4 separate regions of the Homo sapiens genome follow, and regions 1, 2 and 3 are each linked to region 4. Evidence: fine-mapped expression QTL. A gene starts in region 4. Each other region holds a variant in brackets. All regions are shown on one strand. Distances are from middle to middle. Region 1 has its middle 22 kb from the start of GCOM1. Region 2 overlaps GCOM1 (GCOM1, MYZAP-POLR2M combined locus). Region 3 overlaps GCOM1 (GCOM1, MYZAP-POLR2M combined locus). Region 4 holds the start of MYZAP (myocardial zonula adherens protein).

Evidence for each region. PIP is the estimated chance that this variant, and not a neighbour inherited with it, causes the effect. A credible set is the group of variants that fine-mapping cannot tell apart.
Region 1: its variant is the best candidate, but not a certain one, in a credible set for the expression of MYZAP in whole blood (INTERVAL, PIP 0.81).
Region 2: its variant is fine-mapped to the expression of MYZAP in whole blood (INTERVAL, PIP above 0.99).
Region 3: its variant is fine-mapped to the expression of MYZAP in skeletal muscle (GTEx, PIP above 0.99). The same link has a PIP of 0.9 or more in adrenal gland.

The regions. Positions count from the first base shown.
Region 1 is chr15:57,566,233-57,573,883 of GRCh38, forward strand. No RefSeq gene overlaps it. Among named protein-coding and RNA genes, the nearest start is that of GCOM1, 22 kb to the right of the region's middle. The variant G/A (reference allele first, on the strand shown) is at 3,691.
Region 2 is chr15:57,624,138-57,631,788 of GRCh38, forward strand. GCOM1 (GCOM1, MYZAP-POLR2M combined locus) reads left to right here. Exons shown (of 17, transcript NR_104371.3): 5 at 1,642-1,755; 6 at 5,565-5,717. It overlaps MYZAP (myocardial zonula adherens protein), which reads left to right. Exons shown (of 13, transcript NM_001018100.5): 5 at 1,642-1,755; 6 at 5,565-5,717. Among named protein-coding and RNA genes, the nearest start is that of MYZAP, 36 kb to the left of the region's middle. The variant C/T (reference allele first, on the strand shown) is at 4,894.
Region 3 is chr15:57,632,565-57,640,215 of GRCh38, forward strand. It overlaps GCOM1 (GCOM1, MYZAP-POLR2M combined locus), which reads left to right. Exons shown (of 17, transcript NR_104371.3): 8 at 1,049-1,177; 9 at 5,131-5,210; 10 at 6,876-6,981. It overlaps MYZAP (myocardial zonula adherens protein), which reads left to right. Exons shown (of 13, transcript NM_001018100.5): 8 at 1,049-1,177; 9 at 5,131-5,210; 10 at 6,876-6,981. Among named protein-coding and RNA genes, the nearest start is that of MYZAP, 44 kb to the left of the region's middle. The variant G/C (reference allele first, on the strand shown) is at 1,849.
Region 4 is chr15:57,586,983-57,594,633 of GRCh38, forward strand. It overlaps MYZAP (myocardial zonula adherens protein), which reads left to right and starts at 4,922. Exons shown (of 13, transcript NM_001018100.5): 1 at 4,922-5,127. The coding sequence starts at 5,053. It overlaps GCOM1 (GCOM1, MYZAP-POLR2M combined locus), which reads left to right and starts at 4,922. Exons shown (of 17, transcript NR_104371.3): 1 at 4,922-5,127. RefSeq lists a silencer at 4,811-4,920.

The sequences.
Region 1 (7,651 bases), 21 kb before region 4:
AATTTACATACCATATTATTCACTCTTTTAAAGTGTAGAATACATGGGCTTTGAATACGTTCACAGAGTTGTGTAACAATCACCACTGTTTAATTTCAGAACATTTTCATTACCCCAAAGAGAAATCCCATACCCACTGTAGCTTCTCATTCTCCCCACCCAAATCCCCCAGCTCCTGGCCACCACTAATCTACTTTCTATCTCTATGAATTTGCCTATTATGGACATTTCATATAAATGGAATCATATGTGGCATTTTATGTCTGACTTCTTTCACTTAGCATAATGTTTTCAAGGTTCATCTATATTGTAGCATGGATCAGCTCTTCATTATTTTTTAAGGCTGAATAGTATTCCATTGTATAAATAGAACACAAACAAAATATAAATTTTGTTTCTTCATCCATCAATTGATGGATATTTGTGTTGTTTCCACATCTTAGCTATTATGAAGAATGCCGCTGTGATCATTTGTGTACAAGTTTTTGTTTGAACATATGTTTTCAATACTCTTAGGTACATTGCAGGCATGGAATTGCTGGGTGATAACGTACCTTGATGTTTAACCTTTTGAGGAACTGTCAAATTGTCTTTCAAAGTGACTATATAACTTTACAATCCCACCTGTCATGTATGAGGGTTTGTTGCATTTTTAATTGCAGTTACCATGAAGTCTGTAAAAGCCAGGCAGTCACAGCCACAGGGCACAATTCCAGAGTGCAGAGGAAGTTTTCCATACAACTCTCACCCTCTTGGCAGGGATACCAGGCCTGCATGTCTCGTGACTGCACATGTTGTTTAGACAATTGTCTCTGTTTGGTGACCCACAGTTTTCGTACTGATATCCGAGTTTTATTGGCATTGCTGACCTATGAGTCTGATGTCTTTGGTGCAGAGCCTCTATCACAGTTTTACCCAGAATCCCATTGCTTTGGACCAATAATAACAACATTCCCTTTGTACAGGTCTTTGCAATTTGCAAAGCACCGTGTTACTTCCCTTTTCTCCAGAGCCTTATGCTCTGCTTTCCAAGGTGTTGGCCTTAGTATAGCAATGTAACCGCTGCTAAGGTGTGTAATGGCCAATAAGATGCTGGCTTTTCCTAAAGAGACTCACTGAGTCCTAATATTTCCCTAGTATAAATGTATCAGTAATGATGAAGATGTCAGGTGCTATGATAGAGCAAAATGGCTTTTGAGGCTCCCTCAAAGCTAGTCTTAGAAGACTCCCCCTCTGTGTGCAGGCCATAAGCTTGGCATCGTTGTAGGAACTTAGTACGGTGTCCAAGCCAGAAGACTTTTCTTTTTGAGACGGAGTCTCGCACTGTCGCCCAGGCTGGAGTGCAGTGGCGCGATCTCAGCTCACTGCAAGCTCCGCCTCCCGGGTTCACGCCATTCTCCTGCCTCAGCCCCACGAGTAGCTGAGACTACAGGCGTCTGCCACCACGCCCAGCTAGTTTTTTTTTTGTATTTTTAGTAGAGACAGGGTTTCACCGCGTTAGCCAGGATGTTCTTGATTTCCTGACCTCGTGATCCGCCCACCTCAGCCTCCCGAAGTGCTGCGATTACAGGCGTGAGCCACCACCCCCGGTCCAAACCAGAAGATTTTTCTACATCTTTCTTCTTATACAAAGATCGTTTGTGAAAAAGCTAAGATTGGTGGCAGGTTTTCAGGAAATTTTCCTTTTTTTTTTTTTTTTTTGCTAGTTTGTGTTCCTAAATAGTGAACATGCAATCGCTAAGTTTTTAAAAGAAGCGAAAAATTGATGGTAGGCCCAGCAGTTAGAAGGCCCTGGGGTTACAGTTCTTCCACAGGGCAGTTGCTGTTTATGAGTGTTCTTTCTTATCTGTAAACCCGTTCTCTATGCCTGAGAGAACATTCCTTACAGCCATGACTCCTTAAAAAGGATAGCCTTTGCAAAAGATTCTTGTCAAATGTTTTTCATCATCTATAAATCACACACAACTGTTTCCCCCAACATTAGCATCAATGTGTATGCCAGTTTCCTCTGAAAATGTCAAGCATGACTGCTCCTTAGAGAAACCATGTTTCTACCTCTCTTCCTCACCAAAGTTTATAAATTCCCAAGCATTCTCTGTGTTAACATTTTATTGTGTGTCACCTCACCCTGAAAAAAAAAAAAAGATAACTAGATTCTGTGCGTGAACCCCCTTCAAAACTCAACTCCCAGGAGAGCTGTGTGTTTTCTAAGCCTGAGCAGCTCAGAATCCTGGTTCATGAAGGCTTGTGGTCTAAGGGCTGGTTATTTCTTGTTTAAATTCAAATTAATTTCCCAGCTCCAGTGCAAATATATCCTTGCAATACTATACGACACCACTTTCTGGTACAGTCCACCTGCCTGTTTCCTGTGCTGTGTTATATCACTCATAGGAAATTCTAATATTCCAATGAGCAACCAGCCTGGAAAATAAAGCAATTCAAATACCTGGGAATGATGGGCTTATTACCATTGCTCCATTTCCCTGTGATATTTATTCATCAGAGATGAATTGCTTCTTTGTGATTTCAGAGGTCATCTCATCTAGTCCCAGGGAGGACTATGTCTAAACTAACCCAAACTGTGACTGTTCATTAGAGTCTTAAAATTTTATGGCTATAGAAAGATGACATCTTTGACTAAGAATTACTTCCACTGTCTATTTTTTATGAATTTTGGAAGTTCTACTTCAGTATAATCTGAATTTTTTTTGCTGCATTGTCTGTCATTTTGCATGCAATGCAGAAAAAAAAAATTCCACTCTGCATGCTAGAGTGGATCTGGTAACTGAGAATAATAGCCATTATGTATTGAGCACATATTATGTGCCAGAAACCATACATAGTGCTTTACAAGCATTACTTTATTTTATTCTCAAAACAGCCCTATAACGTATGTATTTTTTTTTCAGCCTTTTCCAGATGAGGAAGAAAAGGCCTTGAGACATGAACTAGCTCAGCGAGATGGCATAGTTAGACTTTTGGTTAAACAGGGCAGGTTGACATGCTTGGGTAGTACTGTTCCTTCCTGAAACCCCATGAAAATGACACTGAAGGGATTTTTTAACTTGATAATACAAGAATGATAAAAGAGAATAGGAGAGTAAGCAAGAGCAATGGCATCTGGGAAGCCGGAAGGAGAGGGCAAAGTGTCAATTTAACAGACCAGAAAATGGCACAGCCTATGTGGTTGGGGGTGAAGTTTGAAGTAGGCAGAGTCCTCTGAAAATGGGCACAGGTGGAGCTAAAAATAGGATTTGTTGAAAGTTTGTATATTAAATATTTCAATGTCCCTAGATCCTCTCCCTCCTGCTGCTAGAAGACTAGATATTTCTTCTCTGGAGCTGCCAGCTTTGGGCAGCAGCATAGCTGAGGACAGGGTACCATGCCACATGGGGGATTGAGTGAGTATATGTGCTGAGTGGTGACACCACTGGCCTCCTCCCCAGGCCCAGCTCCAAGAGCACTGGCAGCCAGGTTGATCTCTTCCAAGCAGGAGCCTCGAGGATTCCTTTCTAGGGAAGATGTCTGGCAGCTCAGGCATAGAATTTAAAAGATGTTGAGGGTTGGGAGTACCTTGGTGAAACTGCTCAGTGGTTTACCCTCTGGTGAATTCTATAGTTGATGAATGTCACCCCATCAACTATTGGGTGCCTCACTCTGAAATATGAGCGAACAGTCAAGGGTCATCAG[G/A]CATTTGAGAGAAGTCCTTAATATCAAAGACATAGACAAAAACAAAAACAAAAACAAACAAAACAAAACAAGGAACTAGGGATGAAACAAGCAATCTGGGCAGCAGCAAGAAACCTGTACCATAGCAACAACAACAAAGTCCTGTGATTGATTCATCTTCAGAGATTACATAGACAAGCACAAGAGGTTAGCATAGCAGAGAACCAAAATGATCCTTGGAACTTCAAAGTTGAGAGCAGAAAGAAAAACTAAATTTAATGGTTAGAAAATGAGGTTAATTGAAGTAATTATCCAGAAAGTTGAGTAATAACATAAATGAGGTGAAAAACAGGAGAGAAAACATAATAAAATTAGAGGATCAGTCCAAGGAGTTCCATAGACTAGGAACAGAGAATATGGAAGGGAGAAGGACGCAATTCAAGAAATTTCTCCATTTCTGAAAGACGTGAATCTATAGATATGTAAAAGGTCCACAGAGTGCCAAGCACAATGCATGAAAAACACCCACAACAATGCATGTGCCCAGCCCCCACTTATCCCTGGGAAATGTGTCCCAAGACCCCCAGTGGTGGCCTGAAACCTCGGATAGTACCTGCTGTAGTTTGGAGGTTTGACCATGCCAAACCTCATGTTGAAATTTGATCCCCAATGCTGGAGGTGGAGCCTATGGGAGATGTTTGGGTCATGGGGACAGATTACCCATGTACAGATTAATGCCCTTTCTTGGGGGTGAGTGAGTTCTTACACTATTAGTTCCTAATTGAACTGGTTGTGAAAAACAGCCTGGCACCTCCCCTCCTCTCTCTTGATTCCTCTTTCGCTGTGTGATCTCTGCACATGCTGGCTCCCCTTCACCTTCTGTCATGAGTGGAAGCAGCCTGAGGCCCTCAGCAGAAGCAGATGCTGGTGCCATGCTTGTACAGCCTACAGAACCGTGAGCCAAACAGGCTTATTTTATTCATAAATTAACCAACCTGAGGTATTACATTATGGCAACACAAAATGAACCAAGAGAGTACCAAACCCTATATATACAACATTTTCTTTCCTATACATACAAACCTGTGATAAAGTTTAATTTATAAATCAGACACAGTAAGAGATCAACAACAATAATAAAATGGAACAATTATAACAATATGCCAGGATCACTACTCTTGTGCTTTGGGACCATTGCTAAGTAAAATAAGGGTTCCCTGAACACTAGCACTGAGATGTTGCAATAGTTAAATTGATAATGGAGATGGCTACTAGGTGACTAACGAGCAGGTAGCATATAGAGCTGGACAAAGGCATGATTCATATCCTGGGCTGGATGAAGTAGGACAGCTTGAGATTTCATCACGCTACTGAGAATGGCATGCAATTTAAAAATTATGAGTTGTTTATTTCTGGAATTTTTCACTTAATATTTTTGAGCCGTGGTTGACCACAGGTAACAGAAACTGTGGAAACTGTGGATAAGGGGGCACTACTGTAATTATGAAGCTTCAGACCATCAGAGACAAAGATAAGGCCCTAAAATCTGTAGGGGGAGGCAAGGCAAGATCAGGAATCAGGATGGCATCAGACTTCTCAAGAAAAGCAACATTAGATGCCAAAACCCGTGCAGCAATGCCTTCCAAATTCTAAGAGAGAATTACTTCTCTATCCCTAGAATCCTGTACATGTCCAAACTATCAATCAAGACAGTTTCAGAAATACAATGTCTTGAAATCCTTAATTCCTATTTACCCTTGGGTATATTCCTCCAAAATGAGGGAATTATCCAAAAAAAAGGACAGCATGAGATAAAGGAAGCAGGTAACGCATCCCAGGAGATAATGCCCAGAGGACACCCTGGATGATGGCAAGCGAAGCCCCAGGATGGCACCATGGGGCTGCCTGGAGCCCCACCAGTCCAGGCTGGAGCAGGAGTTTAGAGAGCTCTTCCGGGAAGTGGAGGTGGAGGCTGTCTCCAGAAAAAAAATGCTGTTGACATATGACCGGATGAGTTTGGTCATGTGACACACTGTCACTTTTGAAGGAAAGCTAGTGATGACTTAGTGATAAGTATTAATACATAAAAAGCTAAATAAGTGGAGAAAAGGTGATAGTTGTTAGCTTCAGGAAAAACAAAAAGTTGTATACGAAAGAAAATATTACTATAAAATGCACTTCATGGCCTGTGACTGATGATCACGCGGTCATAGAGCATAAGCCGTGATTATTGATTTAAACAAAATTACGATATAGCTGTATTTGAAGAATGAGGGGGCATGTGGGAGGAAGATTTAAGAGACCAAAACCTCAGTTTCCACATGGAGAGTCACTAGATGGGATCTAAAATTTAAACAAAATCCAGATATGGCCATATAAGTGTGTAATTGAAATATATGATGATAAATACCAGAAGAAATAGCTTAAAGAGTTAAAAGTGGCTGTGACTACGCAATGGGGATCAAGGGGCAAGAGGGTGCTAATTTTCATTATAAACTTGTAGAACCACTGGACTTTTAAAACCATGTGTGTGTATAATTTTGTCTTCTTTTCATTAAATGTTGCAAAATCAGCATTTGAACCCAATTCTGGTCTGAATCCAAACCTTATTCTATTATCTCAATTTTGCCTCTCAAAATAATTGCTTAACATTTATTTGCCTTTAGATTTTAATTTTTTTGAGTCAATTTCTGATGTGTGCTGTTGACTCAATAATCTACAAACTCCACATGTGTATGGTCCGTGCTTATTTTGCTGACCATTGGATTCCCAGTGTCCAGTGGAGCATCTGGAAACAGTTAGGCTCTCAAAAAACATTTGTTTGTCATTAGGTCCATTTTCTGAGTCTCTAAATTTCAATTCTTGAATATCCACATCCCTCTTAAAGACTGTTTCTGGGCCAGGTGTGGCGGCTCACACCTGTAACCCCAGCACTTTGGGAGGCCAAGGGAGGCAGATCGCTTGAGCTCAGGAGTTTGAGACCAGCCTGGGCAACATGGTGAAACCCCATCTCTTCAAAGCATACAAAAATTAGTCAGGTGTGGTGATGTGTGCCTGTAGTCCCAGCTACTTGGGAGTCTGAGGCAGAAGGATCATCTGAGCCTGAGGTGGTTGAGGCTGCAGTGAGCCGTGATTGAGCCACTGCACTCCTGCCTGGGCGACAGAGTGAGACCCCATCTCAAAACAAACAAACAAAAACACAACAAAAAAAGACTGTTTCTGTGCTGCACTCAGATGTGAACACCGTAATAGATGCATATGCAGAAGTGAATTGCAGTTGTATGATCCCCTTAGAGCATTCAGGATCTGAATGATGGGAGCTCGCTGCTTAAGACCTTTTGATTTCCCTGAAAAAGATGCCATTCCGGGGCTGTTTTGTCTGCACCATGCAGGCTGCAATTCCCTTGCTGGCTGGCTCCTCTTGGTGAGGTTCTCCTGCAGGCAGTCTGGTCTAGAATTGAATTACACTAGATGTTATCTTATACTTTAACTAAGTGGCTGAAGCGTCCTTTCTTTGCTTCCTCCTTCACTCCTTTTCTCCTTTCATCTTGTCCTTCCTTCAGTCAACACATTTGAGCACCTACTACTTCGTAGGCACAGGGAAGGAGATGTGTGGGGAGAAACCTGAGAAAATAAAAGGTGATTAATATTGTCCTTACCCACAACTAAGTGAGGAAGCTGGCTATCCAATCAGCTTTCCAATGAAAGCGAGGACAGAAGGAAGTAGGAGCTTAACGGTGAAGCCTGGGATGCAGTAACAGGGGTGGGAATGCAGAAGGAGCATGTGTTCCAACTGGGGATCAGAGAAGACTTGATGGGCAGCTTGGGACTCACAGGAAGAGAGCCAGGGCTCTGAATGTGGAGTAGACAGGACAGAGGCCCACAGAGGCCTTAGGTCCTCCATGGCAGGACCCCAGTAAACTTGTAATACGACTGAACAAAATCCTCAGAAATGCTGATGGGATGTGGGGACAAACTGGGG
Region 2 (7,651 bases), 37 kb after region 4:
AAATAACCTTCTTCTAGTTTAGCCAAGCTAATGCTTGTAGACATTTAAAAAAATTTATTATTAATATTCCCAAAGATAAAAGTCCCTGTCTATGTGACGTACCTTCCATAAGAGTTAATATCTGTGGGAAAGAAGGGCAGTTACAACAGTCATGCATCAGAGTTCAATTTATGGCTGGGCTGTGAGATTAAGTGCTTAAGTAACACCTAGTACCTTGATTATAGGAGTGGGGCTACGTAAATATATCTCCCTACCCCATTTCTTGATTATAGGAGTGGGGCTATGTAAATTTATCTACCTAGCCCCTTCCTTGATTATAGGAATGGGGCTGTATAAACATATCTACCCAGCCCATTCCCACTGGCATGTGGGAGGACATTTGTGAAATTCTCACCTGCTTATGGAAAGTCATTCTGCCATGACTGTCAGACACCAATGACTGTCATCAAAGCCAAAGAATTGGATTTGCAATAGATGCATAAACAAGACTCTGCTCCTCGCTTTCCATCACCATCTCCTACACACCCTCATTTTCTCATGCTAGAATTGTCCCAGAAACCCTGTCTCTCTGCCTACTGGTCTCCTCCTTCTCCAAGTCATCCTACCTACTGCAGCCAGATTAAGATTGCTAAATTATTGCTATTGAAACACACTGCTGAACACAAAGCTGCCACATGCTCCTGGGCCTGGCTTGCTGCTTCAATTCTGTCTCCACTCCCCAGAGTGCACCTCCTGCTCTGCTGTGCCGGGGCTGCTTTCTGCTGCTCCCAGAGGCCACATGGGGGGCCTTCCACCCTCAGTCCTAACTGTATCTAGCCTCTTACCAATATCTAGGTCAAGAATGGCTTCTGACTCAGACATGTTAAACACACACACCCAACAAAGACAGCAGCAACAACAGCAGCAACAAAACAACTCTTTTTTTTTTTTTTTAAATGAGACGGAGTTTCGCTGTTGTCACCCAGGCTGGAGTGCAATGGCGCCATCTCAGCTCACTGCAACCTTGGCTCACTGCAACCTCAGCCTCCGGGGTTCAAGCGATTCGCCTGCCTCAGCCTTCCACGAAGCTGGGATTACAAGCGTGCGTCACCATGCCTGGCTAATTTTTGTATTTTTAGTAGAGATGGAGTTTCACCACGTTGGCCAGGCTGGTCTCGAACTCTTGACCTCAGGTGATCCGACCGCCTCGGCCTCCCACAGTGCTGGGATTACAAAAACACTCTTGAGAATTGAGTGAGACCAAAGCATATTCTCTCCATGGTGACTACAAAGAACAAGGTGGCTGCAGAAGTTATTTCAACTGGGTTCTAGTTCTAGGAGCGCCACTTCTGAGCTGTTTGACAGTGAGCAAATCACATAACTTCTCTGATTGTTTTCTTCCTTACAAAGGACAACATTCTGACTCCTGCACAGTGTTGTTGAGAGGGCTAAATGAGGGTCTGTGAGTAAACACTATCCAAAGGAAGGTGATTCTTGCCCTTCTCTCTGGATCATGCAGATGTTGACTTTTAATTTAAAGCTTTACTTTAGATATTGTTGAAGTAGATGTGGCTTCTAACAGAAGAAAGTTCCAGCCTAACTGAAGATTGTCGTGAACGTGTAGGGATTGATTTTGTGTGACTGTCTCCTCGATCTGTCCAGGTTTCCCATGCTCAGCAGGAGTATCTGGAGAATCACATCCAAACCCAGTCGTCTGCCCTGGATCGTTTTAATGCCATGAACTCAGCCTTGGCATCAGATTCCATTGGCCTGCAGGTACTCATCTGCTTACTGCTATGACAGGGCAACCCAGCTTAATCAAGAGTGGGGACTGTGCCTTTGCAGAAAAATAAGTCACAGAACATCCTTAGCTCATGATTCAGAATTCTTTAAGCAGAACCACTGTGAAGACTGTGCCCAGAAGACAGTGTAGGAAACTGAAGGAAGCATTTCCAAGCTGAGACTCTAAGGCTTTGTTTTTGCTCTCTGAAAAGGAAATTTAGACCCCGAGTTTAGTGTGAGAGATGTTGCTTGCTTCACCAGATACCCGAGTGGTCCTCAGCATCAGTGCCTAACCCCACACGTCAGCCCTCTTCCTCCAGTCCCAGTGCCACAGGAAGTGCCACCTAATCACAGAATAACACAGACTTCACTAAGGACAATCTGTACTCCTTCATGGCAAGCAATATAAAAAAGGCCTGTAAACACTTTTTTATAATTAGAAATTATTTTGTATCAGAAAGAATCATGGATATTCCACGTCTTGTAGTAGCAGACAGGGAAACAGAAAGACCCGGTATCTTATATTTGTGAAAATGCATGTTGTTATCTCACTTTGAGGCATTGTTTTCTTGGTTGATTTGGTTTACAGGAGCTAACCCTTCAAGTGCTTCCCATTCTTACTCTTACAAGTCCCCTAACATGCAAATTAATTTGAAAATGTTCAAAGCAAAGCATTGTATGTATTTGAAATAGCTTCCCTTGGTCTTCATTTCCAAATGTATGAACAACAGTTTTTACCTCTCCTCCAAATTTATTTGGCTCTTATCTTTTTATCCTCCTCTCAAAAGTTCCAAAACCTATTTCAAATCCTTTCTGGTTCTATATAAGTAATTTTAGATAAATAAATTTTCATGTTGGGATTCTCCACTTCCCCTAATTCTCTGATAACAGTTGGTATGGCAGCAGTGACAACAGCAGGGCTCGGCCACTGTCCTGGAGTGGGTCTGGGTGGCCTCGTGTTTGGGGTCATCTGCGATGCCCATTTCTGGTGGGGCTTCTGAGTCCCACCCTTTTCCTGGCTCTCTTGAGTGTATGCCAGCTTTCCCCTGGCCTCAGGCCAAGCCCCACTGGGTCTGGTTTGCTCAGCAGCCTTTGTTTTCCCTTCCTCCTGTGGTCGGGGGGGCTTGCCAAGGCTCCCTTTCCTCCCCTTTCGGACGCTGTCTCATTCCCAGCCCACCAGCAAGGGCTTTATCTCACCTGAGTTCAGACTTAGTCGGTATTTGTACTACATCTCTGGTTTTTCTTCCCAGAAAGAAAAATATATTTGCCAGTATTTTCTGGCAATTCTTGTGCTTTGCCATCTGGCCAACACTCTGGCATTTACTGCAGAGGTCAGCTGTTTGAGCTGGGCCAGCTCTGACCCAGGCACCTTGACTGATTCCTAGTTATCATGCAGGCTCTTAGTCCTGGACAGCCAAAGGAGCCTTATAGCTAAAACCGCTGAGAGAAACAGAAAGAGAGAGACAAAGAGAGAGGGAGAGGGAGGGGGAGGGGGAGGGGGAGGGGAGGGGAAGGGGGAGGAGGAGGAGGAGGAGAAGGAGAAGGAGAAGCCATCTCACAGCAGGAAACTCAACCTGGTAGAGGAAGAGGGCTGATGCACGGTGTTAGGCACTGATGCTGAGGACCACTCGAGTACCTGGTGGACCGAGTCTGAAGAGAGCTGGCTTCTTCCTTATGCAAGACCCCAGCCTCTTCCACTGGCCCACTCTGTCCACTTTCATTATTATTGACAGGGAGACCAGACCCTTGGTTTGATTCCATAGAATGTCAGAGCTAGAAAGAACTGAGAGGATCTCAGTTTTATGAATAGACAAACTGAGGCCGACAGAGAGAAATGACATGAGCAAGATGCCTACCTAGTGACAGAGCCAGGATTAGAAAAATCCTGGTCTCTTGGACCAGAGTGTAGGTTTTTGTGTGGATACACGAGTAGAATCTGTGAAGCCAGTGGGGCTGGGGGAGTGGGTGGCTGGTCTAGGTGGTTTCTAAAGCCCCTTGAAGCTCAAATGTTCTGTGACTCCATGCTTCCAAATAGCTTCAGTATTTTCTTTAGTATCTAATCACCTCCTTCAGAAATTCTTTTTCTTGATTCAAGTAGGTTTAGGAGTGAAAGGCTTATATTGTCCAAAGTAGAGGCTGAGGAATTGAGGAAGCTTCAGAGACTGATCATCTAGACAAGAGCACAGAGGTGTTAGAAACAGTGCCCAACACCAGGGTTTTCACATCTTCTAATGTGAAATTGTAGATGACTGGGGACACAGTAGAAGATGACTTTCCAACGGCACAGATTCTGTGGAGGCCATTTATCTCTAAGGAGAGTTAACCAAGTAGAAACCAAAGCAGTAAATAGCACCACCATTTTTTTCTTTTTCTTTTTTATTATTTTTTTAGAGATGGGGTCTTGCTCTGTTGCGCAGGCTGGAGTGCAGCAGTGTGATATAGTTCACTGCAGCCTTGACCTCCTAGGCTCAAGTGATCCTCATGCCTCAGCCTCCTGGGTAGCTGGGGCTACAGGTACACACAACCATGTCTAGCTGGTTTTTAAATTTTTTTTGTAGTTGCCCAGGCTAGTCTTGAACTCCAGGCTCAGGTGCTCCTCCCACCTCAGCCTCCCAAAGTGCTGGGATTACAGTCATGAGCCATCACGCATGGCCAACACTATTGATTTAAACATCCTTGCTTCAGTGCGGCCTGGAGCAAAAATTACTTGTGCGGCTTGGAGCAAAAATCACTTGTCTGCATTACCAAATTCTGTTCCTTAGTACTTCTTTATTACTACCCTTCTCTGCCTAAGGGAGGAAGGTGAAATGTTTGCAGGTATGTGAGTATTCTCAGTCACATTGTCACTATCCTGGCAGGCAGTCTAGAAGCGCAGAAGGGATAGCTCTTTTAAGAAAAAAGGGAGGCCGGGCGTGGTGGCTCACGCCTGTAATCCCAGCACTTTGGGAGGCCGAGTCAGGTGGATCACGAGGTCAGGAGTTCGAGACCAGCCTGGCCAATACGGTGAAACCCCATCTCCACTAAAAATACAAAAATTAGCCAGGCGTGGTGGCAGGCGCCTGTAGTCCCAGCTACTCGGGAGGCTGAGGCAGGAGAATCGCTTGAACCTGGGAGGCAGAGGTTGCAGTGAGC[C/T]GAGATCGTGCCACTGCACTCCAGTCTGGGCGACAGAGTAAGGCTCTGTCTCAAAAACAAAAAAAAAAAAAAAAAAAGAAAAAGAATAAAAAGAGGAATATCTCTATTCTATAAAGCTCGTATTTTGTTTTCTGATTTCATTGTGGCAATTTGGGAAATACAGAAAAAATAAATAAGAAAATAGATACCCATAGCCCTATCACATAGTGAAAACTATCATTCAGATTTCCTCCTGGTCTTTTTCCCCCCAGTGCATAAACATATATTTGAACCAATGCTTATACATATTTTTCAAAATGGGATTATACTATACTTACTATTTTCAAAAGCTGTTTTTTTTCCCATGTGAAATGATGTATTATAATACTTTTCCTTGGAAGGACTCCATTTTAATCCATTTCCATCCATCCTAAGCAGTGGCAAGTGGTGTTGGCAGCAGCTATGGGATGGTATGGGAGAGGTTTTCAGTCCCTCCAAGCTACAGGGGCAGACCTCTTGGCCACCATGGGAGACCCACAGTCCCTCACAGCACAGGGTCCCAGACTGGCAGTTGCTGTAGCCTAGGACAGCTACCCCAGTGCTTAATGATAAGGGGATGCCCCAGCATGTGGTGCAGCCCATGTGTTTTCACGCCACCGGATCTGGTTTTGTTTTTATTTTCATCCTCACAGAAAACCCTCGTGGATGTGACTTTGGAAAACAGCAACATTAAGGATCAAATCAGAAATCTGCAGCAGACGTATGAAGCATCCATGGACAAGCTGAGGGAAAAGCAGAGGCAGTTGGAGGTAGCGCAAGTTGAAAACCAGCTGCTAAAAATGAAGGTGGAGTATAAAAGCCTAGATTTATTTTCTATGAACTTTTCTCCTCTTTACTTCTCCCTTTTCTCTTCCCATCTTCAACCTTTCCATTTCCTTTTCTCCATTCTCTTCTTCATTGGATTTTTTTTTTTTTTTGAGACAGAGTCTCACTCTGTCACCCAGGCTGGAGTGCAGTGGTACAATCATGGCTCACTGCAACCTCCGCCTCCTGGGTTCAAGCAATTCTCGTGCCTCAGCCTCCTGAGTAGCTGGAATTACAGGCACGTGCCACCTTGCCCAGTAATTTTTGTATTTTTAGTAGAGAAGGGGTTTCACCATGTTGGCCAGGCTGGTCTCGAACTCCTGACCTCAGGTGATCCGCCTGCCTTGGCCTCCCAAAGTGCTGGGATGACAGGCGTGAGCCACCGTGCTTGGCCCAGTTTGGGGCTTCTCCATAAATGCCCCCATTGGGCATGCCTTTCTTGGCCTCCAGTCCCTTCAAGGGCTCTTTAGACACTCACCATGGTGCTGTTGTTATGTAACTGAGAAGACGCTTGGGATGCCCACAGATCTGGGACGTCAGAAGCCTTGGAGATCTCTTCCTTCACTGTTTAGATTTTCTTTGAGGTCCCAAGGCCTTTCTGTTTGGCTTGACAATAAAGAGCTGAGGGGCACACAAATAGCTGGTACTTGGGCTGTACCCCAAGTACAATATTCTCAAGAAGAAAATTGGTGGGTGACTAGGGACACTGGGGAATGTCCCATTTGGCCCCCTAGGCTGGGAGCATTCCTTAGCTGAACTTCTAATGCCCTAGAGGCATTAGTGCCCCTCCCAAATTTAAACTGTGGATAGACTTCCTACCCGGTGACAGGAGCAGATCCATGAATGGCTCCTGGAGGGCACTTAATAAATTATATCTTGGATGAATTCCTTTTTATGTAAGTCTGTGGTTTGAAAATTTTGCTCAGCACAGACTTAGGCTATCTTATGAGTAGCGTATCCACATAGTTTATTGCTCAAAGCAGAATATGTGAGGGAGTGAAAGGTGGTACTATTGGTAATTTAGTTAGGGAGACAAACTGGGAAGTGTGGGCCCCTTCACAGGGGTAGGCTGGGTGGGGAAGAGGGGCTGCCGGTCCACCGCCCGGTCTCTGTATTGCCGCCCTGGGGATCTGCTGCCAGTTCACTTGGCCTGCCACAGCCATGGGACAGATCATCTCCTCTGTATGTTCACTTCTAATAGGGCAGCTCTTCTTTTCCGTGTAAGAGTTACTTTCTCAGTAAGAGTTACTTGGGGGGTGAAAAAAGTTTATGTTGCTAAAAAAGCCTGAAATTACTGATTTAAGTAATTTTTTTCAGCTTAGGGGATTTATTCAATCATTCAGTCCACAAATATTTATTGAGTGTCTACTCTATGTGTGTGTCCTGTTCAGTCCTGTTGGTTCCAGAGGTGGCCTGTCACCAGGCATCTGGGGACATCATTAGGCTGCTTGGCAATCTGGCTGCTTCCCTGGAGTCCAGGCCTTTAACTCCAGCCCACAGTTGCCTGTTTTAGAGACTGATGCTTGTTTTCATCCTGACAGTGGAGTTAAAAAGGTTTCTCCTACTCCTCCTATTTTACTCCCCAAATTGGGAAAAAAAAAAAAAGCTTCAGGAACTCAGGGTATGTTACATGACCTGGATGCAGAGTGAATGGGCCTCCAGGGACAGAGCCCTTCCAGCAAGCTGTGCGTGCACTGCAAATGGAGCACACAGCACACAGGGTCTCTCTCAGCTGGTCATAAGCTCTGCTCAGGACTTTCCACTTTGGAACTTCTTGGTGCCAACACTTACCCAGTGATGAGAAGGGAGAAGTCAAGGGCGTCAAGAGAGACTTGTCACATCTTGGAAATAACATCATGTAACCTATTGAGTTTGAAGAATGCTTCCCTTTTCCAGAGTTTAGGTATGCAGCAAA
Region 3 (7,651 bases), 46 kb after region 4:
TGTGTTGTAGCTGCCGATGTAAACTTACCGGGAATTGTTGGTTCATTATTGTTGGTGATGTATACGTAGTAGTGTTTATTCTTAGAGGTGGGTCAGTAGACTCAGCCATGGGTAAGGGATCAAGGAATTATTCATCTGCTCATTCACTCCCCTCCCCTCTTCCCCTCTGCCTTTATTCATCCCCGTCTCTACTCAGAATAGCCCCTTGTCTCTGTCTCTAAATACACACCTTTTTCTAGCTCATCTGACAATTTGCCAGCATCTAAGCAAACCCTGGGCTTGCCCGCAGCTGTGCCCTCCCTCCCTCCATTTGGTTCTCTCTACCTGAAATTTCCTCCTTCCCTATCTTTGATCTTGCCTAAGCTCCCTAAAAGCCTTAAATGCCACTCTCTCCATGCCTGGAGTCTCTTCCAGTCATGGAGCCAGAACCATTATCTGTCCTTAGGAAGCTCACTCACTCTCTCTCTGCTTTTACTTTGGAATTCTTTTATACCTGCCATTAGAGTGGGGCTGTGCGTCTCACATCTTGGCTTTTCCAGGAGATTATAAGTTCCTGAAGGCGGGGACTCCATGTCTGGCTCATCTGTGTCCGTAGAGGCTTAATACATGTTCTGATGATTGACTGGGTTTTCTTGTTAGTAATGAGCTGATGTATTGCATTATGGGAGAAGGATCTGGGAATTCTGCATTCAATTCCAGATCTGGTTCTAATTCCCTTACACTTCTGGCAAATACAGTGACATTCTGAGCATCTACTCAATGTTATTAAACATTTGTAGGCCTCTTTTACACCTTTTGGATATAAAGACTTAAGGGAAAAAAGGGAAAAAAATGTAGTGAGGCCCATTAACCAGCCACATGATGTATCTTTATTCATAGGTGAGAACCAGAACCGTGAGGTTGAGTTCATGATCTGTGAGACACTTTCAGGTTCCAAGGTCATGTTTTAAAGAGAAATCGTGATCTAGCAAGGCCTGAGCTGATTGGATCCCGGTGAGTAGCCTCGGTACTCCATGCCTGTACTTAGGAGGGTATATTTCTTTTGCAGGAAGAAACCAATAGTTTTCTGAAAGCGATTGAAGAAGCCAATAAAAAGATGCAAGCAGCAGAGATCAGCCTAGAGGAGAAAGACCAGAGGATCGGGGAGCTGGACAGGCTGATTGAGCGCATGGAAAAGGTAGGACACAGCGTTGGGCCTATTGCCCACTTGCCCAAACTTTTCCCTGTAGGTCCATCTGAGATACGAGAGGCCCTGGATATGGATTCCTCTCACCTCCAAAATTTGCAATTAAAAAAAAAAAGACAAAGCTATAAAATAAAGTATAAGGAAGTCCAACAACGTTCTCATTTTTCCCATGATAACTATTTTGATGCTTTTAAAAAATATTACTTGTGAAATTCTTTAGAAAAATTAATATTTTAGCAGCCTTGCTTTGCTGGTGCCCCAGGTGTGAACTTAGTTTATCCATTGAATTATCAAGCCCTATTTAGGTGTTACATCAACACAGCAGCCCTGTTGTTTCTGGGGCATGTGTCTCAAGGGTTGGCTTTTCCTTGACACGCTGGGGACTTGAGAGAGTAGGGAGGCCCCATTTCTCTAGGTGTTGTAAGCAGGCTGGTGAGTGTGGTGGGGGAACCTGAGGAAGGCGGGAGCTCAGCTGGGATAATGAAGCCTGTCTAGTGAAAGGGAAGAGGCCAGGAATTAAGTAGGAAGTGGAGGAAGGGGAGGAAGTGGTGGGAGAAAGGAAAGAGGAAAAGAAGGAAGAGAAGGAAGAGAAAGGATGGGTGACCTTTAGCAGGTGACGGCTGACTTCTGGACCCAGGAGTTCAGGGCCAAGTCTGTGGCTG[G/C]TTTCTGGGAATGGCTCCCTGGCTGCATATGAGTTTGCAGAGAGCAGTGACCTGCCAAGACCCTGACATTATTAGCACCCTGTGACTCATTCGGGATGCCAAGAATCTCCAATCTGATGATGGAGGCAGAGGTGGGGCAGCAAGAGCAAGGTCACTGTCAGGCTTCATGTGATGCTGAGAAGAGGTCGCCTTAGCTAATGGTGTTTGCAGCATAAGCCCCTGTACTGTCCCCTCATAAGGCGAGGTGTCGCCACTATGGGAACTGCATGAAATTCAGTTCTGTGGAGCTTCAGAGCTCACTGGGTGCTTCGTTTTAGCTCTTTAGCTTTTTACTTGGGAGAGACTTGGGCAAACTAAAGAGTCAATTACAATCTCCCTTCTACCCCCTGGGAAAACAGAATCCCATCTTTTATTGAAGAGTAGGTGATTGGCTTAGTCAGGACTAACATTAGTATTGACCAGAGGGGGTGGTGGTGAAGATTGGGCAACAAGGGAGCTTTCTAGAGCTTGAGTGAGCTTCCTCCCACATTATTGTCCTCCTACAACAGCAGAAGATCCCAGTTAACTCAGATGCTCTCTCTCTGGGCAGCAGGTTTTTCTGCAGCGTAAAGAAGCAAGGTGAGCCGGCAGCATAGCAGGGTGGTCTGGGGGAGATGCCGTCATACAGAGAAACCACAGGTAGTGGTCATGAACATAGGCTTTAGAATCAGACAGTCTGGGGATTTGAATCTTGTGTCTCTTTGTAGTTGTTTGCACTTACTTGGTTTTTCCTAACTCAGTCTCCACTTCTGTAAAATGCTGATAATGGTACTTCTTATTCTTAGGGCTTTTGTGAGCAATAAATGAGAAAAATCCACGCCAAGTGCTAAGCATGGTTCCTCGTATATAGTAAGGGTTCGATCATTTGTGGCTATGATTTTTACTCTGTTACGAGGTTGCCTAAATGTCTACCCTCAGAGTCAGGTTGTCTTTAGCACGACCCATTTTATGCTTATCTTCATTGCTGTCTTGAGGTTCTGAAAGTTTCTTGTCTTTCCCCACTGATTTTCACATGGAGCCCTCATGTGGGATGAATGGGTAGAGCCAGGAAGCTGGTAAGGCCAGCCCTCCCTGCCAGCATTTAGGAAACACAAAACCTTCCCCAAGTGGTGTTGGCTTCTTCTTTAGTGATTGGAAATGTATTGTCCTTTCTCTAAATCTTCCTTTCCATTTAGGCTAGAGAAATGCTCTATTTATTGAACTAACATTAGGTAGGCCAATTTACACTGTTTCCTTTTCAGGGATAAATCTGTGAGAGCAGGAATCTGGCCAAATCGCTGTCTCACACTACGTGAACGGCATGTCCTAGGCAGGGCTGTGGCAGTGTACGTATCCTGCTCTCAGTTTTGGATTTTGCTCAAGGACAAACCATGTGCTTTTGAATGGCTTCTCTGCCATATGCCTTAGTTTACTGTTTCTCTTGCTGAGCACTGTATTTCAAACACCTTTTTTTCTGATCAGTAAAAATCTTTTAAGGAGTGTTCTCTACCAGGGACCCTTCTGGGGAACAGATAATAGTCTATGCCATAATCTGGGCAGTGGTTTCACAGGTGTTTACAAATGTAAGAAATAATTGTGCAGTGTACACTTAAGATTTATTGTACCTCAATTTAAAACAAATTTTAAAAGTGTGCTGTAAGTTAGACCTTGCTCTACTTTATGACAGCCTTTTTCTTTCTTGTTTTTTGTTTTTTTTTTCTTTTTGGAGGGAGGCATTCACTTGTGAAAGCTTTTATCACTGTTATTTCGGGGCTAATGTAAAACTTCCAACCACATAGGGGCAGGAGGAATGTTCTGCTCAGGCCAGGCCATAAGAATGTGCATTTGCTGTAGAGATTTAAAAACAGTAACAAAACCCCAGTCAAAGTTGATCTACCTTTGTTATTTTAAATATTTCAGAGATAATATATTCTTCCTGCTTAAGGTGGACTGCTTCCCCACCCCTTTGGCCTACCTCTTGGTATACCACTGCTTATAGCTTCAGAAGTTGTGGCAGTTAAATTTTCAAAGATTTGCTTTTAATAATTTGGTAGAAAAGAGGTTTGGAATCTATGTAGCTAGTAAGAGTTTGCTGGGTGGAATTTCCGAACATAAAGATGAGGAACATTAGTTCTTAGAGAAGGACCTAAAGTAAAATAATCTCCCAATTAGTGAGCGTTATTTGATAAACTTGCATTTTAAGGAAATTTGTTACACTAACATCTGTAATGTATTTTTAGCACAATTTCGGTTATGACAGGCACCATGTTTTTATGAACATTTTTCAGCTTTGTCCAAAGAAATGATTCCAGACTCTTTTTTGGGCAAACTTCTAAATATACATATATATAGCAAAGTGTACAAAGTGCACGGCTTAGTGCGCGTATGTTTCCTATTGCTACCATAGCAAATTTCCACAAGGTTAGTGGCTTAAAACAACACAAATGTATTATGTTCCATTCCTAGAGGTCAGAAGTGCTAAAATCCAGGTGTTGGCAGAGCTGGATTCCTTTTGGAAGCTCTAGAAGGGAATGCATTTCCCTGCCTTCTCTAACTTCTGGAGGCCACCTGTACTCCTCAACTTGTGGCCCCCTCCTGCAGCTTCAGAGGCAGTAGCAGAGCATCTTCCAGGCTCCTTCTCTCTGATTCTAACCCTGCTGCCTCCTCCTCCTTAGAAGGGCCCAACTGGATAACCCAGGATCTCCCCATTTTAAGATCTTTAACTTAATCACATCTGCAGAATTCCTTTCTCCATGTAAGATAACACATAGGATTCAGGAATCAGGACATGGACATCTTTGGAGGGCCATGAATCTGACCACAACATATTTTTACAAGTGAATACACCTGTGTAAACACCACAAGTTAGAATATAGGATATTGCCAGAATCCCAGAGCCTCTTTTCTTGATGATTCAGAAAATAATAAAGAATTTTGCAGTATCACAAGCCACCAGTTTAAAGTATTGATAATCAGTATTTGGGGCTATAAATTTTCACTGATCCTGGGCTGATGGAATACTTTGGAAAATGAATCTTGAATGGTTTTATTTAGGATGTTTTGTCTCTGACCCATAAATATATCTATAAATACACAACAACAGACTTGGCAGTTTTGAGCCTTGTTTGGGCTTTGCTGAGCAGGTGTGTAAAACCCAGGGGGTGTCATATAGACTTGGACTCCCTAGTGCTAGAATTGCTAAATAGACATTCTCTGTCAAACTTGGGATCCATTGATTAAAATATCAGTTTCTGTTTGTTTTAGGAACGTCATCAACTGCAACTTCAACTCCTAGAACATGAAACAGAAATGTCTGGGGAGTTAACTGATTCTGACAAGGAAAGGTAAGACGTAATGCCTTTCGTCTTGTAATGGATTTAGGTTGTGGACACGCTGTGTTTTTATGACCTCATTTGACCCTTACATTTTCATTTGTGTGGTTGTACCTTATTACAGACTTAAGCATACATAACATTGGGCTGAGAGTTTCCAATATGGAACAAGTTTCTTTGGAAGCCTCCAGCCACATCCTGCAGATCATGGCTGGTTGTTAGTGTAGTGGAACACATCAAATACTTTCACAAGTGCAAAAGTTTGGTCTATTAATGTTCTCCATGGCCTTGAACTCCACAGGATACACCTTGTTGATGAGAAAACTCATCAGCTGTGACTAATACCACTTGCTTTGGAAACCAATTTAAAACATCTTTCTTTGTTTCCAAACTTTGCTTAGTAAAACCTTGCATTATCCTCTGGCAGTGAGTATATAAAGCCCTACATGAAAAACACGGAATAGTACGCTGTCTGTTCTAGAAATCAAAATGCAGAGAGGCCATTCAGGGGTCTCTAGTGAAGGAAAACAAGGTTGAGATGATTTGAGTGTTTTGGGCAAGTGACTTAACCTCCCTGAGTCTTGCTTGTGCCACATGGAAATTCATCTTTAAACGGGGGAGACGGGTATGACGGTGATAACAGTGCCCATCTCACTAGGTTACTGTTGTTAAGAGAACTATTGGGCTTGCTGCCTGCCAAATAGTACGTGCTGAAAAAATACCCATTTTTCCTTCCTCATTTGCAATTTCAGAGTTTTCAAAGTTACAGGAGGCTTGCTAGTCATTAACATAGTGCTGAGGCAGAGATGGGGCACGGGAACTAGACCACCAGACCTTTCCTCCAGTGCCCAGCCCCAGCGGCCCCAGAGAACTGAAGAGTCCAAGCAATGTTGGAGAATAAATTGTGCTGTTGTAAAACAAAAGTATGAAATGTTTTGTGATGTGGCTTGCTCTGTTTGGATGTAGAGAAGGTCTTTCAACTTGTCCCACATTTGCCAAAAATAAAGGATATGTAGAGCAACTGTGATTCCAGACCTTTTGGTATTCTGCCGTTGATTTCAGATATTTTATTGTGTTGCTGGACCCCTTCTTCCCCGTCCTCCCCTCCAAGTAATTTACTGGATGTTCCAATATGTTAATAACCCCAAAACAGAGAGCTTCTCAGATCTGTAAATGGTGCAAAAAAATTATCTCTCAGCCCCTGGAAAATAATCATCCTTATATGGGATAAAACTTGCAAATGGGAACTTGAAAAATAGTCCTGTGCTCCTCTGTTGTGGTAGTTTGTTAGTAATCACACTACTTTGTGTGGTCATCACATAAAGTAAGAAGAATGGATCTTAGAGTTTGATTTCTTGTTCTTGGAAGCATTTTTAAATGTTTTTAAATTTACGTTTATTTTTTTACCAAACCTTCCCCAAAAGATACATGTTTTCTATTTTTATTTATTTATTTTTTTTTTTTGTGGAGATGAGGGTCTCAGCATATTGCCCAGGCTGGTCTCAAACTCCTGGCCTCAAGCAGTCCTCCTGCCTTGGCCTCTTGAAGTGTTGGGATTACAGGCATGAGCCGCCATGCTTGGCGCTCTTGGCAATATTCTTTAAAGCTGTGACTGTTGCTACTGCTGTTGCTGCTTTGGTTTAGGACTCATTTGCTTTTTTCTCCTATTTGTGTTAGGTATCAGCAGTTGGAGGAGGCATCAGCCAGCCTCCGTGAGCGGATCAGACACCTAGATGACATGGTGCATTGCCAGCAGAAGAAAGTCAAGCAGATGGTCGAGGAGGTAAGCATCTGCAAAAGGTCACAGGCCTGGGATTGCTTCCTGTGGTGGGGAAGCATCCCCAGAACAAGTCTGCCTTGCCCCTCCATTTCCTGTGGCTCACAAGCCGAGGTGCTCAGGCCACTGCCATCTAGGCCCAGAGTGGGATTTCCCCACATGTCCCCCATGGACTGATGACGATGATGCCCCTAAAAGAGGGGTTTCCTCAGGTCAAAGGGTTACAGTTAAGAAAGCTGGAAAGTGCAGTTCATAAGCTCACCCACTGTGAAAGGACAGTGATAGCCTGAGTGGGTACCCACAGCTCAGGGGACCCAAGGGGGTGATGGGCAGGGTGAATTTAGCCCAGGTCCCTGCACTGCCTCCACAGCCGTCTGTCTGTCTCTCTCTCTCTCTCTCAGCTACCATTCTTGTCCTTTATCGTTTTCTGGGTGTGTCTTTCATTCCCTTTCCTTGTCTGTTTCTCTCTTTTTTCTCCCTCCTTCCTCGTTCTCTTCTCCCACTCCTGCTTCTTCTTCCTTTTCCTTTGCCACCATCCTTTCTCTCCTAACTGTCTCTGTAACAGGAAACCAAGCTATACATTTACTGTTTGGGCATAGTTTACTATTCTCTTTTTTCTAAATGAGAAAACGGGTAAGTTGAACATTTCTATTTCTCTAAGAGGAACAAAATTTGT
Region 4 (7,651 bases):
ATTTTTTTTTTGGTATAGATTTAAATACAGTTACTACTCATATTTTAATTTGTCCAAATGACAATTACTGACCGGTCACTAACTTTTGGGGTAAATTACTCAAGGAAGTACATGGGCTACAAAAAGAGATGCTTCTTGCCCCGTGCTTCTCAGGAAGGCCCCTAATTCTTTTCACGTGTCTCATCTGACTGATTCCTTCCTTTTTGTTATTACTGTTTTTTTGACATTGGGTGGAGTCTACTTCCTCTTAAAGACAGTCATCAGAGTATCTTCCTGAGAAAAGAAATACGTAAGGTTTCTGCCTTTGTATCAACATGTTTTCTCCAAGCTCACAGTAGTAGCTACTTGGAAAAGTAAGAGTGCTGCCTTCTTCTAGGTTTTGAGGTTTGTCTCACTGTGTTTAATCTCAGACTTGGGTGAAGTCCCAAGGCTGAGAAAGAAATCACTCATCCTTTATTTCATTCATTTTCTTAGCTGATTCCCCATCCCTCAGGATCTGTAGAGGTATTTGTCGACTATTCACTGGGGTGGCCTACAAAAATCCTCCAGCTTTTGGTTGGTCATGAAGTTCTGTGGATTTTCTGCCTTTTGAATCCATCCCCTCCTTTCTATTCCACTGCCACCGACTGCCCTAGTGCAGAGCCTCTTTACGTCATGGCCACACTTCCAGTGCACTCCAAAGTACTTGCCTTCCAGGCTCTGTCTGCCATCCTTACTCCTTTCTTTGCTGCCTGCCATCTTTCTTCATACAAATCTGATCATATCACTGCACTAATTGCAAAACTTTAAGAGCTCATAATCTGCTATTAAGTCTCAATTTTATTCAAGTCCATTTGCAATCTAACCCCACCCTACTTGTCTCTGGCCATTCCCTCCTGCCCTGAAGTTCAAGCAGAACTGGCTAACATGCATTTCCCACATCCCCCGACCCACTATTTCTTCCAGCTCCTCTGTCTGGAATGCGCTTACCTTTTCCTCCTCATTCTTCGTGTCCAACAACTCCTATGCCACCTTCCCAGGGAAGCCTTCACTGTTCTCTGCCCAAGCAGCTTCCCTCCTGCCTACCATAAGTGCTCTGGACACACCTCAAATCTGGCCCCTATCCCAGTAGAGGAGGTGAATTGTCAAGTATGCAGATGTTGGAGCCATCTTGCCTGGGGTTGAAGCTTAGCTTAACCACTTACTAGTGCTGGAACCAAGGGCAAGTTACTTAACCTCCCTGCCGCTCCATTTTCTCATCTGCAAAGTAAGGGACATAATACTACTTTCCTCACTGAGTTGCTGCGACAGTTAAATGTGTTGATGCATTTTAAGCTTTGTGAACTCAGTAAGTGCCATATAAAAGTGTTAGCTGTCATTTTATTTGCTAAGTGCACATCTCTCTTCCTGGTTTGATTGTGAACTCCTAGAAGACAGGGGCTGTCTTACTCACCTCAGTCCCCAGTGCTCAGTACACAGTAGGTGCTTGGTACATATTTGTTCCATGAATTGGCTTATTATTACTCTGCCAGTTGCCTGTTGGTTCACTGGGTTAACTGGCGAGACAACAGAATGATTTCCAATGAGCTTGTATTCCCCAGGGTGGATCAGCAAGTGGTTCCAGCCCTTGTGTCTAGACAGGCCTATAACTGCTGTGTATCTGGATGACTTGGCTGGGGTTTTGGGTTCCTTTCAGCCTGCCTTTCTTATCTCTAGGCCCCATTCCCTGTTTCTCGGACAACCTGTGAATATGGGGTGTTTCTTGTTCTACTTTATCCAAAGGGGCTTTGTAATGTATTACCCTTGTCCTTGGTTGGAAATGTGTCCTTTTTCTATTGTGAAAGTTTGGTCTGTTTGGCATGCAGAATGGGAGAATATGCCAGGACTTCGGGATGCTGTCGCAGCTGAATGGGAGAGAAAGAAAGAGAAGCTTCAGAGATATAAGAGTGAAGAGGGCATGAAATATCAGGAGGGCCAGAATTGCTTGGGTTCATCTACTGTGTGCTCTTGTCCAGTGATTTAACTCTTGATCATTTGTGCAAGAAATAATGAGTCATTGCTGCTCAGGACTTTGCTGGAGAAAAGGGTCCTATCATAAGCCTCTCAACTAAAGATGCCAATGGAATTTGGAAAGAGTTTAGCAGAAAGCAACAAAGACAATTCAGAAGCAGAGACCTAGAGGATATGAAAGATAATTCTAGGAACTGGGATGGGAGAAGGAGGTAAAATTCAGTAACTGATTACAAGAAAATGAAGGGTGCTTATACAGACATCTGGAATTTTCTACACACCTGTGCTTTAGCAGAGAAATTCAGGACTGCTCTTAGGCCTATGTGGCTATTTCTGTGGATAGAAAAGGATGACAGCTAAGACAGTTTTGTCATAGCTCCCGTTCTCTCCAGCCCAAACACTAGCAACCCCTTCATCACCAATGCTCAGAGGGTCTGGAGTAGATGAGTCATGTTGCAAGGGAATGTGGAGAACTTCTACACCAGACCCTTATCCCTGTTCCCCTCCCATTGGCCCTCTTCCCCACTCTCAGTTCTGTAGACTCCAGAGGACTGCTGACTGGGCAGAAGTTCTCAGCTTTTGATTCCTCTTTTGAAAAGAGTCCATCTTTTTTTAAAAATCATCTTCTCTCAGAAATATTAATGGAAACCAGTGACTGTGACTTCATTTTTTACTTTTTCCTCTCCACTCTAGATCCACTTTTCCATTGATTTCAGTCCTACTTGTCTTCCCATTTTCCTTCTTTCCCACTTTCTGGGCTCCCCACTCTCCTCTCTCTTGCAGTTCCTTATGACCTCAGATTCCTAGTGCTGGCCTATTAGGGAGGAGCTGTGGCATAAGCCAGGGCCTGGCATCTGCCTGGACACACCACCCACAGCCCTTGGCGATTGTCAGCCAGCTTTGGGGAAATGGCCTGGCTGGGACAACCCTGGGGCTCTTGTTGCTTCAGCTGCCAAATTGCTTGGAGTCCCTGGCCCACCCTAGGAGCTGGGTTGGCAAGGATCTTAGTTTCTGTTTTTCATGACCATGAGTGAGTTGAAATCTTACTCTGTAATAACATTTCTTCATTCTTTCCACATTTACTTGCACTACCACACGTCAATTACCTGCTCTAGATATTGGACAGGCAGAGATGTAAACAAGATCCAGCTTCTACACAGAGCTCACAAGCTAGTGAGCTGTCTGCTGCTTTTGTAAAGAAATATAACACCGTGTGAATAGGATGTTAACAATATGAAAAAGACTTGGGTAGATTAGAGGGCTTCGTGGAAGTGGAATGGGAAGGAACCTGTCATGAACAATTTTCTTTTTGGAAGGGATAGGTGGATGGGAGGATGCAGAGAGGAGTGTAGCAGAAAAGCAGAAGGACTTGGGTTAGAAGACTAGATGTGTAGTCTCAGCTGTTCACCAATTAACCTAATGTCTCTGGCCTCAGTTTCCTCATTTGCAAAACAGGGGCGATAACTGTAGCCCACCTTGTGGGGCATTGTGAGAATTGGTTGAGAAAATGCATATAAAGCACTTAGGACACAAGCACAGCTACTGTGAGGATGACGATGAGGATGGTGAAGAACAGGCTGTGCAACTTTGGGAAAGTCACTTGTATACACCGGCCTCAGTTTCCTCATCTACAAAAGGAGTGAGTTCCACAGGATCATCTGTAATTCTGTTTAGCAACATTTTTTTTTCAGCATCTTCCCTGTTGGTGCCATTGGGCATTCAGAGAGGGTCAAGGCCTGGCCTCTGCCCTCCAGAAGGACAGGGTACAGGCACACACATAGATAACTCTAACAGAAGACAGGGTCCCGCGGAGCTGCTAAGTTCCTGAGCATGCGTGTTTGGGGAAGGGGTTTCTGGAGAGCTCCGTGGGGAGGCAGTGCTTGACCTGGGCTTTGAAGACAGAGATTGTGTCTTTCCCTGCTGAAAAACACTTTGTCCTCAAGATAAAGGCCAAATTTCCAGCTAAGCACACAGGTTCCTCATGATGTCCTCAGCTCCCTTCCGCTGCTTCTCCACTGTTTTCCCACTGCACTGTGATACTTCCAATTCTTGAAACATATTTTATACCTTCCCTTGCTTTCCTTCCATCTTTGTGCATGCTAGTTCTTTTGACCTGGGACTCCCTCCTCCCTCTGTTAGGGGACAGCAGAGGGGACAAGCAAGGCACTAGGGTCGGACTGGGGGATTCATATCCTACCTTTGCCACTGAGAGGCCAGTGGGTCGCCTGCTGTGTTGCTCAATCCCTAGGTGAGTCAGCGTCTTCATCTGCAAAATGGGGATACAAGGTAACAACAGTGACTCCCTCAAAGGGCAATGGTGAGGATTAAATGAGGTAACACACGCAAAGTGCTCGCCAGGCAGGCCCACAGTAATCATTGAATAAATATGGGCAGTGTGGCCCACTCCTACTTGCATTTCAGGTCTTAGCTTAGTCATCACCTCCTCTGAGGTTGGCTGTGTGCTCCCTTAGTACATGGTATCTCCTCTTCTACCACAGCCCGGCACCTGTCATCCCCACCACACTGCAAACTCTCCGAGGCCAACAGCCAGTCGACTGGGTTGGCTGCTGGTGGGGACGCATAATAGGCATTCAGGAAATACTGAATGAATGACATGGGGTGAGGGTCCCAGTGATACGAGGGCGTGCAGAGGCTGTAGGGGGCAGTCCGGGGTGGGGGTAGGTCGTGAGACTGAATGGGCAGGTGGATCTCAACTCTGCGGGGGACAGAGAGAGCATGGGCGTCCAGGCTGTCCAGGGCTCCTTCTTGCCCTGGGACTGACCCTGGGAGGGCGCAGCGCCCTGGGAGAGGATGGTGCTCAACTTTAACCGGGTCGGCGCCCTCGGGAGAAAATGCAGCCTGACGGGTCGGGTGAGCGCGCTCGGCCCCGCCCCGGCCCGGCCCGGCCCCGCCCCCGGCCCCACCCCCGGGCCTTCGCGGTGCAGCTGAGGCTGCAAGTAGCCGGCGCCGTCCCGCGTCGCCCCCGCGCAGGGCGGGCCCCGCACGCTTATTCTGCCCGGGAGGAACGCCGGCGTCCAGCCCGCTACCGACCGCCGCTGCGGGATGCTGCGCTCCACGTCCACGGTCACCCTGCTCTCGGGCGGCGCCGCCAGGACGCCCGGGGCGCCCAGCAGGAGGGTGAGTAGCGGGGGCGGGAGCCGCCGCCGTCCCGTTCCCCCATCCCGGCCGCCCCCTCTAGAGGGGACTAGGGATGGGAAAGCTCGGGAGCCAGCACCTGGCCCCGACGCCCCACCCTGGGCTCAACTCCCCGGTCCTGTGCCGGCTCTGGCAGTGACCCTCCCGCTTGAGGTTTCAGGGGGCCCACCAGCTGGTAGGAGAGGGCTTAGGGGACTTTATGGAATTCCCAGAGATTTCCTCTCCTTCCTGCCTTTCTGTCAAGCCGAGTTTATTGGCGGCACCAGTTTAAAAATGAAGGAAGACATTTGTGCAGTGTCCCTACCTTGAGACTCAAAAGTAATGAATGTATTTAAAACTCAAACTTTCCTTCTTCCATTAATTAAAAGAAAGATGGGGTCACTTGTGTCCACTAGTGATAGGGTATCCACTAGTGATAGGGTAATTCTGGAGTGGGGTTAGCCAAGGTGGGCAAACCAGAACAGCAGCCGGCCGCCCAGGAGCCCGACTGTGTGGGACTCCGGTTTATGTAAACCACTTTCTTCTGTCTGATTTAAATATTAGCACAGTGACAACAATGGCAGCACTGAAAGCTTGGGACAGCATCTCCAGGGAAGGTTTCCCTTTGGAAGTGCTGTTTCTTTTTGATCTTTGTGGCATCTTTTCCCATCTCTCCAGATGCTCTGTAAAAGAAATGCTCCATCTTTCTAACACGGTCAGCACCTTAGAGCCACAGCCAGGGGCTTGGCTTGTGGCTTTTTAGTTCTTCCATTTATCATGATGTTCAATACTTATCATTTGGTACCTCTTTGCTCTGATTGAGACTTCTGTAATCGTGTTTCCTCAAGATTTAAACAGGTGGTTAAGTCCAAAGCAAAACCCCCACTGGTTCTGTCTGCGTGCAGGCTTGGACCTGCTTATTTGCTTTTACATGCCTTAAGCGAGTGATGGTGGTCACCTTATAAGCTGTCTTTCTTAGCTCTAGAAGAAAGGTGTGTTACTCTTGGGCATGGGCCAACTGATGGATTCTGGGGTGTGTGTGTGCGTGCACTCACCAGACACTTAGGTTGTGTACACAGGCGCACACACACACACACACACACACACACCCCAGAATCCATCAGTTGGCTCATGCCCAAGGTTGACAGAACTCCAGTTGTCCAATCATTAGCATCATAGAGTAAGATCTACATTGGGTCCAAGGGGGTTTCCAACCACAGTCCTGGCCTTACTCTAAGTTGGGTGTTTGTATTTTTCTATGGAAATCTTTCTCAATTTGAACACAATTGCAACTGAGAAAGAATGAAGTCACTGAAAAGCTAACCCTGAGCCCTGAGAGGATCATATGTGTGACCAGACTGCATGAATTGCATGAAATTCTCTGTAACTTCCCTTCCAGAGGTGGGGATTAGTTGGGGTACCTAACCTAATACGGTGGGTTGATACAAATGTGACTAGTATACAAATAACATTTCTGAAGATTTTGGGTCAAACGTTTCCTTTGGAATATTTATTTAATTATAGGTGCTTTGCTGTCGGACACATTGTGACACTCTTGAAAAGACTTTGCCTTTTGAATAAGATGGCAGACGTATTTTGGACTGGAGAACTCAGGGCTCGGGATCAGGCCATTCAGGGCTGTCCTGGGTACACTGGTACTTGTTTCTGGAAGGAAGGTATCTAAAGGGTCTAGGGTTCTGCCCATCTTTATGGTTTCTAGCTCTGCTCATGATTTGCAGATGTTACAAGTACTATCTGTGTGTGTGCTGGGGATTGTGTGTGTGGTGGGAAGCTGTGAGATGTTGATTAATTGATTTATTGAACATTCATAAACCTTTCTCTGTGTGGTAAAGGGCTGGCATTGGGGTCCGCCCTACCTGTAGAGGCAGACATTTTCCCAAACTAACATCAAACAAAGTGGTGATGGTTATAGTGGGGTGAAGAGTTTACAAAGTTCTGTAGAAGCTAAAATAAAGGTTCTTCCTGAGGCATCAGGGGAAGGCCTCTCACTAAAGGTATGTTTTTTTGAGATGGAGTCTCACTTTGTCATCCAGGCTGGAGTGCCATGGCACGATCTCGGCTCACTGCAGCCTCCACCTCCCAGGTTCAAGCAGTCCTCCTGCCTCAGCCTTCCGAGTAGCTGGGACTACAGGCGCACACCACCATGCTTGGCTAATTTTTGTATTTTTAGTGGAGACAGGGTTTTGTCATCTTGGCCAGCCTGGTCTTGAACTCCTGACCTCAAGTGATACAACTGCCTCGGCCTCCCAAAGTGCTGGGATTATAGGCATGAGCCACCCAGCCCCGCCTACTGGTGATGTTTGAGTTTAATCTTGCAGGATGAGTAGAATTTGTAGGGGAATTGACATTATTGGGATACTGAAAGGAGGAAATAACCATCTCAATGGAATACTTGGCATATATAATCATGTACTGCATAACCACATTTTGGTCAACAGTAGCCAGGATATATGACGGTGGTTGGAATGGTAGGCTATCTCATATCGCCTAGGTGTGTGGTAGGCTA